Linked DNA regions of Homo sapiens: region 2 is linked to region 1. Evidence: fine-mapped expression QTL. A gene starts in region 1. The other region holds a variant in brackets. All regions are shown on one strand. Distances are between the middles of the regions. Region 1 holds the start of SPON1 (spondin 1). Region 2 has its middle 13 kb from the start of LINC02683.

Region 1 (4,378 bases):
TCAAAAACAAAAATCTGATCAAGAACCTACCTCCATTAGTAAACCAATAAAGGCCTCACATTCAACTGTTAGGCTTATTAGGAATCTCTTTTAGCTCAGGCACACTCACCTTTGTAAACTCATTTACTCCCTACCACCAAGAGAGGGTGGATAAACAGCTTTTTTTTTTTTCCAGCTAGGAAATAGGTGCAGAGAAATTAAATGACTTGCACAAGGTCACACAGCGAGTAAACCCAAGTCTGTTGGACTCCAGAGCCACTTCTTTCTCTGCTACGTGGAGCGGGGACAGTTTCCCCTGTGAACTCAGGTCCTCAGTTTTGGGGAGGGCCGAATAGGCCACTGAAGTCATACCCGCTTCCCTGCGGTCCACAGGGAGGATCGGCCGCCTCCCGGCTGCACCGAGTGGCAGTCGCCGCCCGTCGGCGCGGCTCGCTCTAGCCGCGGTGCCAAGCCGCGCGCTCCCTCCCGGGCTGGGCGGGGTGTTCTCCGCCCAGAATCTTTCTTCGTGGAGTACCCAGGATCCCGCGGAGCTGCGCGCCGGGGTCAGACTGTTCCTCGCAAAGTGCTCAGCACGCCAAGGTGCCAAGGGCACCAAGGAGCCGGCTTTGGGTAGCTCCGGGTGGAGAAAGTCGGGGACACAAACCCGGGAAAGGGGGAAAAGCGCTCCAAGAAGGGTGGCCCCTGGCTTTGGTCTCCGGCGTGACCCTGGCGCCCGCTGACGCTGCCCCAGACTTTCTCCTGTGTTGCTCCCACCGCTTCCGTCCAAGGCTCTCTGGGGAACTGGGAAGGCGAGGAGGAAAGTACAGCAGCTGGGAGCCCATTTGCCCCACCAGGTGCCCCAGTGACCCGCTCATCCCTGCTTAGCACCAGAGCTGACTTATGAAGGGGCGAGGGTGAGAGGACACGCTCCCTGGCGGGAGCTAAGGTGAGGCCAGACAGGCTCGCTTCCCTTCCTGGTTACCTGTCCCCCACCCGGAGAGCGGCTGCTGCTGCACGGGGAAACGATGTCTGGGGAGATGACCCTGCTGAGGAGCGAGGTGGCGGGCGTGGGGACAGAGTCAGGCGTCTTCAGATCGGTGCTGGTCGAACTGCCTGTCCCGCCTAGGAGGCTCTCACCTGCTTGGACACCTCCTCCCTGAGCTCCCGAAACCCCACTCTCAGCCGAGCGGCGTAGGCGCGACATCCCTGGGACGTGGAGACTCCGAGCTGCCGGAGCCAAGGTTCCCCGGCCTCCAGGGAGCAGGCCTCGGGCATCGGGGCTTCTCTTTCCATCTTCATCCAATTCCCCTTGCAGCTCGGAGCTTACCCCAAGCTCTTTGAGGACCCTGTCCCCACTGGGAACCTGTTCTGGAAACCCAAGATACTCTATCTCGTCTGGGACCACGAGAGAATAATTTGGGGTTCTTTCCAAGGACCCTTTCGAGGAGCTTTAGGCTGTCCCTGCCCCTCCTTCCCGCACCCCGGGACCGGTTAGGGAGAAGCCAAAGTCCCTTCTCCTGAAGGGACCTATCCAGGGAAGCCGGAGTGGCTGTCCCGCCCAGGGCCAGTCTTTGAGAATCGGGTACCCTCTCCTTCAGGGACTGAGCGGGGAAAGCTGGAGTGGCTGCCTTGCCCGGGACCCGACCAAGAGAAGCCTGGGTCCCCTCCAGACCGATTTGGAGAAAGGCAGTTTTACTTCCCTCCTGCAGACGGCCGGGGGAGAAGCGAGCCTCCCTTGCAGTCAGGCCGGCGTGACGTGTGGCTCAGTTACATCCTCCGCCTGGGAACCGCGCGTCGGAAACGCGGGGTGCCTCTCCTGGCTGCGGCCCCCGCGACGGCCCGGGACGCTGGATTATGATCCGCGCCGAGCTCGCGACTGCAAGGGCCGAGGGCAGCCAGGACAGAAGGGCCCTTGCCGGGCTGCACCCGCGCCACGCGCCCGGAGACCGCGCGCCCTCCTCCGGCACCGCGAGGTCGGCGCCCTCCGGGGACCGGGTCCCGCTCTCCTAATGCCACGCCGGGCGGCCACTTACCGCGGTAGCTGGTTCCCGGCTTGTAGAAGTCGGGGTCGCCCTCCACGCGGAGGCTGAACTCGGTGTAGCCCTCGCGCCGCGTGCCCTGGGCGCGCAGGATACGGCTGCAGTAGCCCTCTGACTTGGGCACTTTGTCCAGGGTCTCGTCGGAGAAGGCCAGCGCCGCGGCCAGGGGCAGCGCCAGGGCCAGCAGTGCCGGAGTCCGGCTCAGCTTCAGGGGCGCCGGGGACAGCCTCATCTTCGCGGCCCCCAACTTTGTGCCGCGGCCGCAGGCCTTCGCCACGCGACTCCTGCCCGAAGTGGTCCCGACGAAGGCGCGACCTGGCGGAGGCGCGGCGGAGAGAGGGAGCTCGGAGCTGGCGTCCGCGACTCGGAGACCGTGCCCGCCTCGGCTTGGCGGCCGCGGAGCTGCGCTGAGCTGAGCTGAGCTGAGCCAAGCGAACGAGAGCAGCGCGAGGAGGGGAGGGCCGCGGCGAAGGAGCGGGAGGAGGGAGGGCTGATTTTGCCCAGATCCCCCAGCGCAGCGCTGTTTTGTTTCCTCCGAACTGGCGATTAGCGGCGCGGCCGTGTTTATTTTGCGACGTTGGATTCCCAGGGTCTGACGAAGAAACCGTGGCATACCGGACCCTGTGGGCTCTGTCCCATCGCCTAGGAGGCTGCTGCTCCAACCCCCAGCTACACTCCGGACCCTCTGGAGGACGGCGCTCAGAGGAGGGAAAGCCTGAGAAATAACTTTTGTTGCACACCTGCTCTGTGCCTAGCAATATGCTTGGCGGCTTACTTACTGTATCGACTCGCCTTCATGTTCCCTACTCCCAATAAAGATTACATTACTTTCGCTCACTTTATAGATGAGCAAACTGTGACTTGCGACCAGTTACAGCAGGGTTAGATGCGGCGACTCCGGGCCCATTGCTCTTCCCAAGGCCATAGTGGAACATGTCAGACTGGAGGCTGAGAAAGGAGAAACGACTTAGCTACAGCGCTTAGGGCCCACGATACTTTTGGAGATCTATGAAAATGTTTTCTGTAAAAATCAGAAGAAAAAATTTATGTCAAACAAAATGTTTTACTATATAATGTTAATATATTTGTATTTATACCTCCACAGTCATAAAATATGCTTGACTTGGAGGAAAGAGCCAGCAAAGGCAAAAGTGCCTAAGGCTCAGGAAGGTCCTCCTACAGCCCAGGAAAGGAGTTTCCAAAGATTCAATGAAGAGCCTGTGTTTTCTTGGCTTACATTTTAGTTCAGATTCTCACTCCCCAGGGACAGATGTTCAGAGAGGTGCTGAGCCTGAGGGCCTGAAGGGAAAAGACCTGGGGCAAGAATCTCTCCCAGTGTCTCTCTGGGAAGAGACCCGAATCAAACCTCAGTCCTGCCACTCACCCATTGTGAAGCTTGGGCTAGTTATCGCACTCTCCAAGCTTGTTTCCTGCTCTGGAGAACAAGGAAGTGGGGGTGGGTGCCAGTACATCCTTCTTAGAGGTAGTGGGGTGATATGCTAGAAGTAAATGATATGACCCATATAAAACACTCTAGTTGGTCTCTAGTGGCGCCTGCTCCCTCACCCGCTTGGGGATACCATAAGCCCCCTGCCTCTCAGTGCACACAAACATCCCTCCCCAGGTGCCCTCAGAAGCTTTGGTTTCCTCGTCTTCTCTTTGCCCAGGGCCTTCGACACACCTCAAGTGCCTACAATTAGCAAGCAATCTCCTTTGCTTTCCAGGTCAGGGTTTTCTCTTTCATAATGCTACAAACAGGCCCAGGGCGCTAGGTGCATGGGAGATCTCCATTCCTCCCTGCCTGCCCACTTACTCCTTAGTGCTTGTGCTGGAATTCCCACTGCCACTATTAACTGGACGCCTTCTCTCAGAGGTCACCTGAAAGTAACCCCTTGCTGAAGCCAATTATGCTCTTCTCTCATCCCTAGCCCTTCTTGACCCTAGCAGCACCTGATCCAGCTGATCGGCCCTCCTTTTTGAGGTGAGGCTCAGATCCATGTCTGAGTGCTGAGGGAATTGTCTGCATCTTCACTCGACTGGCTCAGAGCTCATGCTGCACTCCAAGTTGCACGGTCCCATTCATCCAGCAAACTTTCATTAAGTGTAGATTTGGAGCTAGACTCTGTGCTGACCGGTAGGTAGAAGACGGAACAAAAATTCATCCATCCATCCATCCATGCATCCTTCTATCCATCCATTCATTCATGACAAAGACCCTCCACGTGCTCAGTGCTTGGATACAAAACACAGATATGTTACTTGCCTTTGAGGATTTTACAGGCCTGTGGCAAAGGCAAATATTAAATACATAATTATATGAATCTTTTAAAATTATAATTGTGATGTATGCTACAAACTAA
Region 2 (4,378 bases), 25 kb after region 1:
CTTGGGCTCCAGCTCTACCTGGGTCCTCTGGAGACAGGATCCTAAGGGCTACGGTAATTAATGTGACCCTGTAGCAGAAGCTGGCTTCTCCCAGTGAGCCCCATGGGAGAGATACCAGATTGACAGGTAGTTGGGAGAATAGTAAATAGTACCATGTGACCCCTTCTTAAATGGAATTCCCATGAGAAGAAGGTAATTTCCATCATGGCGTTATGAAAAATTCTCAAGCAGCTCTATGGCTGTGTGTTAAATGAATTAAATGACTGTTAAATGGAATTGCCTTTTGCAGCTGTTATTACACAGTGCAAGTTCCCTGCCAAAAGGGCTGCACCAACTTACCTTGTCACAGGAAAAAGAACCCCCTTCCCTGTGGACTCGGGTTTGCTCATGTAAAAATTGTTGCCTAAATTAATACCATTTCGATTTTAATTTGCATTTAATTGCTCATTAGTGAAGTTAAATGCTAGTTTTCCAGATTTGTGTTCCCCTTTCCTTTTGCATTCCCTTTCAGGTGAATCTATAACCTTATTATGAAAATGAGAGGGGGCGGTTCCAAGATGGCCGAATAGGAACAGCTCCAGTCTACAGCTCCCAGCATGAGTGATGCAGAAGACAGGTGATTTCTGCATTTCCAACTGAGGTACTGGGTTCATCTCACAGGGCCTTGTCAGACAGTGGGTGCAGGACAGTGGGTGCAGCTCACCGAGTGTGAGCTGAAGCAGGGCGAGACATCACCTCACCCGGGAAGCACAAGGGGTCAGGGAATTCCCTTTCCTAGCCAAGGGAAACTGTGACAGACAGCACCTGGAAAATCAGGTCACTCCCACCCTAATACCACTTTTCCAATGGTCTTAGCAAATGGAACACCAGGAGATTATATTCCGTGCCTGGCATGGAGGGTCCCATGCCCACGGAGCCTTGCTCATTGCTAGAACAGCAGTCTGAAATCCAACTGCAAGGCGGTAGCAAGGCTGGGGGAGGGGCGCCCACGATTGCTGAGGCTTGAGTAGGTAAACAAAGCGGCAGGGAAGCTCGAACTGGGTGGAGCCCACCGCAGCTCAAGGAGGCCTGCCTGCCTCTGTAGACTCCACCTCTGGGGGCAGGGCATAGCTGAAAAAAAGGCAGCAGAAACCTCTGCAGACATAAATGTCCCTGTCTGCCAGCTTTGAAGAGACTAGTGGTTCTCCCAGCACGGAGTTTGAGATCTGACAACGGACAGACTGCCTTCTCAAGTGGGTCCCTGACCCCCGAGTAGCCTAACTGGAAGGCATGCCCCAGTAGGGGCAGACTGACACCTCACATGGCTCGGCACCCCTCTGAGATGAAGATTCCAGAGGAAGGATCAGACAGCAACATTTGCTGTTCAGCAATATTCGGTGTTCTGCAGCCTCTGCTGCTGATACCCAGGCAAACAGGGTCTGGAGTGGACCTCCAGCAAACTCCAACAGACCTGCAGCTGAGGGTCCTAACAGTTAGGAAAACTAACAAAACAGAAAGGACATCCACACCAAAACCCCGTCTGTACGTCACCATCATCAAAGACCAAAGATAGATAAAACCACAAAGATGGGAAAAAACAGACCAGAAAATCTGAAAATTATAAAAATCAGAGTGCCTCTCCCCCTCCAAAGAAACACAGCTCCTCACCAGCAACAGAACAAAGCTGGATGGAGAATGACTTTGACGAGTTGAGAGAAGAAGGCTTCAGATGATCAAACTTCTCCAAGCTGAAGGAGGAAGTTAGAACCCAACGCAAAGAAGCCAAAAACCTTGAAAAAAGATTAGACAAATGGCTAACTAGAATAACCAGTGTAGAGAAGTCCTTAAATGACCTGATAGAGCTGAAAATCATGGCATGAGAACTACGTGACGAATGCACAAGCTTCAGTAGCCGATTCAATCAACTGGAAGAAAGGGTATCAATGATGGAAGATCAAATGAATGAAATGAAGCAAGAAGAGAAGTTTAGAGAAAAAAGAGTAAAAAGAAATGAACAAAGCCTCCAAGAAATATGGGACTATGTGAAAAGACCAAATCTACGTCTGATTGGTGTACCTGAAAGTGACGGGGAGAATGGAACCAAGTTGGAAAACACTCTGCAGGATATTATCCAGGAGAACTTCCCCAATCTAGCAAGGCAGGCCAACATTCACATTCAGGAAATACAGAGAACGCCACAAAGATACTCCTCGAGAAGAGCAACTCCAAGACACGTAATTGTCAGATTCACCAAAGATGAAATGAAGGAAAAAATGTTAAGGGCAACCAGAGAGAAAGGTCGGGTTACCCACAAAGGGAAGCCCATCAGACTAACAGCAGATCTCTCAGCAGAAACTCTACAAGCCAGAAGAGAGTGGGGGCCAATATTCAAAATTCTTAAAGAAAATAATTTTCAACCCAGAATTTCCTATCTGGCCAAACTAAGCTTCATAAGTGAAGGAGAAATAAAATCCTTTACAGACAAGCAAAT[G/C]CTGAGAGATTTTGTCACCACCAGGCCTGCCATAAAAGAGCTCCTGAAGGAAGCACTAAACAAGGAAAGGAACAACCCGTACCAGCCACTGCAAAAACATGCCAAATTGTAAAGACCATTGAGGCTAGGAAGAAACCGCATCAACTAACGAGGAAAATAACCAGCCAACATCATAATGACAGGATCAAATTCATATATAACAATATTAACATTAAATGTAAATGGGCTAAATGCTCCAATTAAAAGACACAGACAGGCAAATTGGATAAAGAGTCAAGACCCATCAGTGTGCTGTATTCAGGAGACCCGTCTCACATGCAGAGACACACATAGGCTCAAAATAAAGGGATGGAGGAAGATCTACCAAGCAAATGGAAAACAAAAAAAGGCAGGGGTTGCAACCCTAGTCTCTGATAAAACAGACTTTAAACCAACAAAGATCAAAAGAGACAAAGAAGGCCATTACATAATGGTAAAGGGATCAATTCAACCAGAAGAGCTAACTATCCTAAAGATATATGCACCCAATACAGGAGGACCCAGATTCATAAAGCAAGTCCTTAGAGACCCACAAAGAGACTTAGACTCCCACACAATAATAATGGGAGACTTTAACAGCCCACTGTCAACATTAGACAGATCAACGAGACAGAAAGTTAACAAGGATATCCAGGAATTGAACTCAGCTCTGCACTAAGCGGACCTAATAGACATCTACAGAACTCTCCACCCCAAATCAACAGAATATACATTCTTCTCAGCACCACATTGCACTTGTTTCAAAATTGACCATAGTTGGAAGTAAAGCACTCCTCAGCAAATGTAGAAGAATAGAAATTATAACAAACTGTCTCTCAGACCATAGTGCAATCAAACTAGAACTCAGGATTAAGAAACTCACTCAAAACCACTCAACTACATGGAAACTGAACAACCTGCTCCTGAATGACTACTGGGTACCTAACAAAATGAAGGCAGAAATAAAGGTGTTCTTTGAAACTAATGAGAACTGCTGGGCGTGGTGGCTCATGCCTGTAATCCCAGTACTTTGGGAGGCCAAGGTGGGTGGATCACGAGGTCAGAAGATCGAGACCATCCTGGCTAACACGGTGAAACCCTATCTCTACTAAAAATACAAAAAATGAGCCGGGCGTGATGGCGGGCGCCTATAGTCCCAGCTACTCGGGAGGCTGAGGCAGGAGAATGGCGGGAACCCGGGAGGCGGAGCTTGCAGTGAGCCGAGATGGCGCCACTGCACTCCATCCTGGGCAACAGAGCAAGACTTTGCCTCAGAAAAAAAAAAAAAAAAAAAAAAAAAACAAAGAAACTAATGAGAACAAATATACAACATACCAGAATCTCTGGGACAAATTCAAAGCAGTGTGTAGAGGGAAATTTATAGCACTAAATGCCCACAAGAGAAAGCAGGAAAGATCTAAAATTGACACCCTAACATCACAATTAAAAGAACTAGAGAAGTAAGAGCAAACACATTCAAAAGCTAGCAGAAGGCAAGAAATAACAAAGATCAGAGCAGAACTGAAGGAGACAGAGACACAAAAAACCCTTCAAAAAACCAATGAATCCAGGAGCTGGTTTTTTGAAAAGATCAACAAAATTGATAGACTGCTAGCAAGACTAATAAAGAAGAAAAGAGAGAAGAATCAAATAGATGCAATAAAAAATGATAAAGGGGATATCACCACCAATCCCACAGAAATACAAACTGCCATCAGAGAATAATATAAACACCTCTATGCAAATAAACTAGAAAATCTAGAAGAAATGGATAAATTCCTGGACACATACACCCTCCCAAGACTAAACCAGAAGGAAGTTGAATCCCTGAATAGACCAATAACAGGATCTGAAATTGAGGCAATAATTAATAGTCTACCAACCAAAAAA

Evidence for each region.
Region 2: its variant is fine-mapped to the expression of SPON1 in whole blood (TOPMed, PIP above 0.99). The same link has a PIP of 0.9 or more in blood mononuclear cells.

Annotation. Positions count from the first base shown.
Region 1 is chr11:13,960,777-13,965,154 of GRCh38, reverse strand. It overlaps SPON1 (spondin 1), which reads right to left and starts at 2,432. Exons shown (of 16, transcript NM_006108.4): 1 at 2,013-2,432. The coding sequence starts at 2,250. LOC124902637 (a long non-coding RNA gene) reads right to left here and starts at 1,998. Exons shown (of 2, transcript XR_007062602.1): 1 at 110-1,998.
Region 2 is chr11:13,935,676-13,940,053 of GRCh38, reverse strand. No RefSeq gene overlaps it. Among named protein-coding and RNA genes, the nearest start is that of LINC02683, 13 kb to the right of the region's middle. RefSeq lists an enhancer at 965-1,466. The variant G/C (reference allele first, on the strand shown) is at 2,471.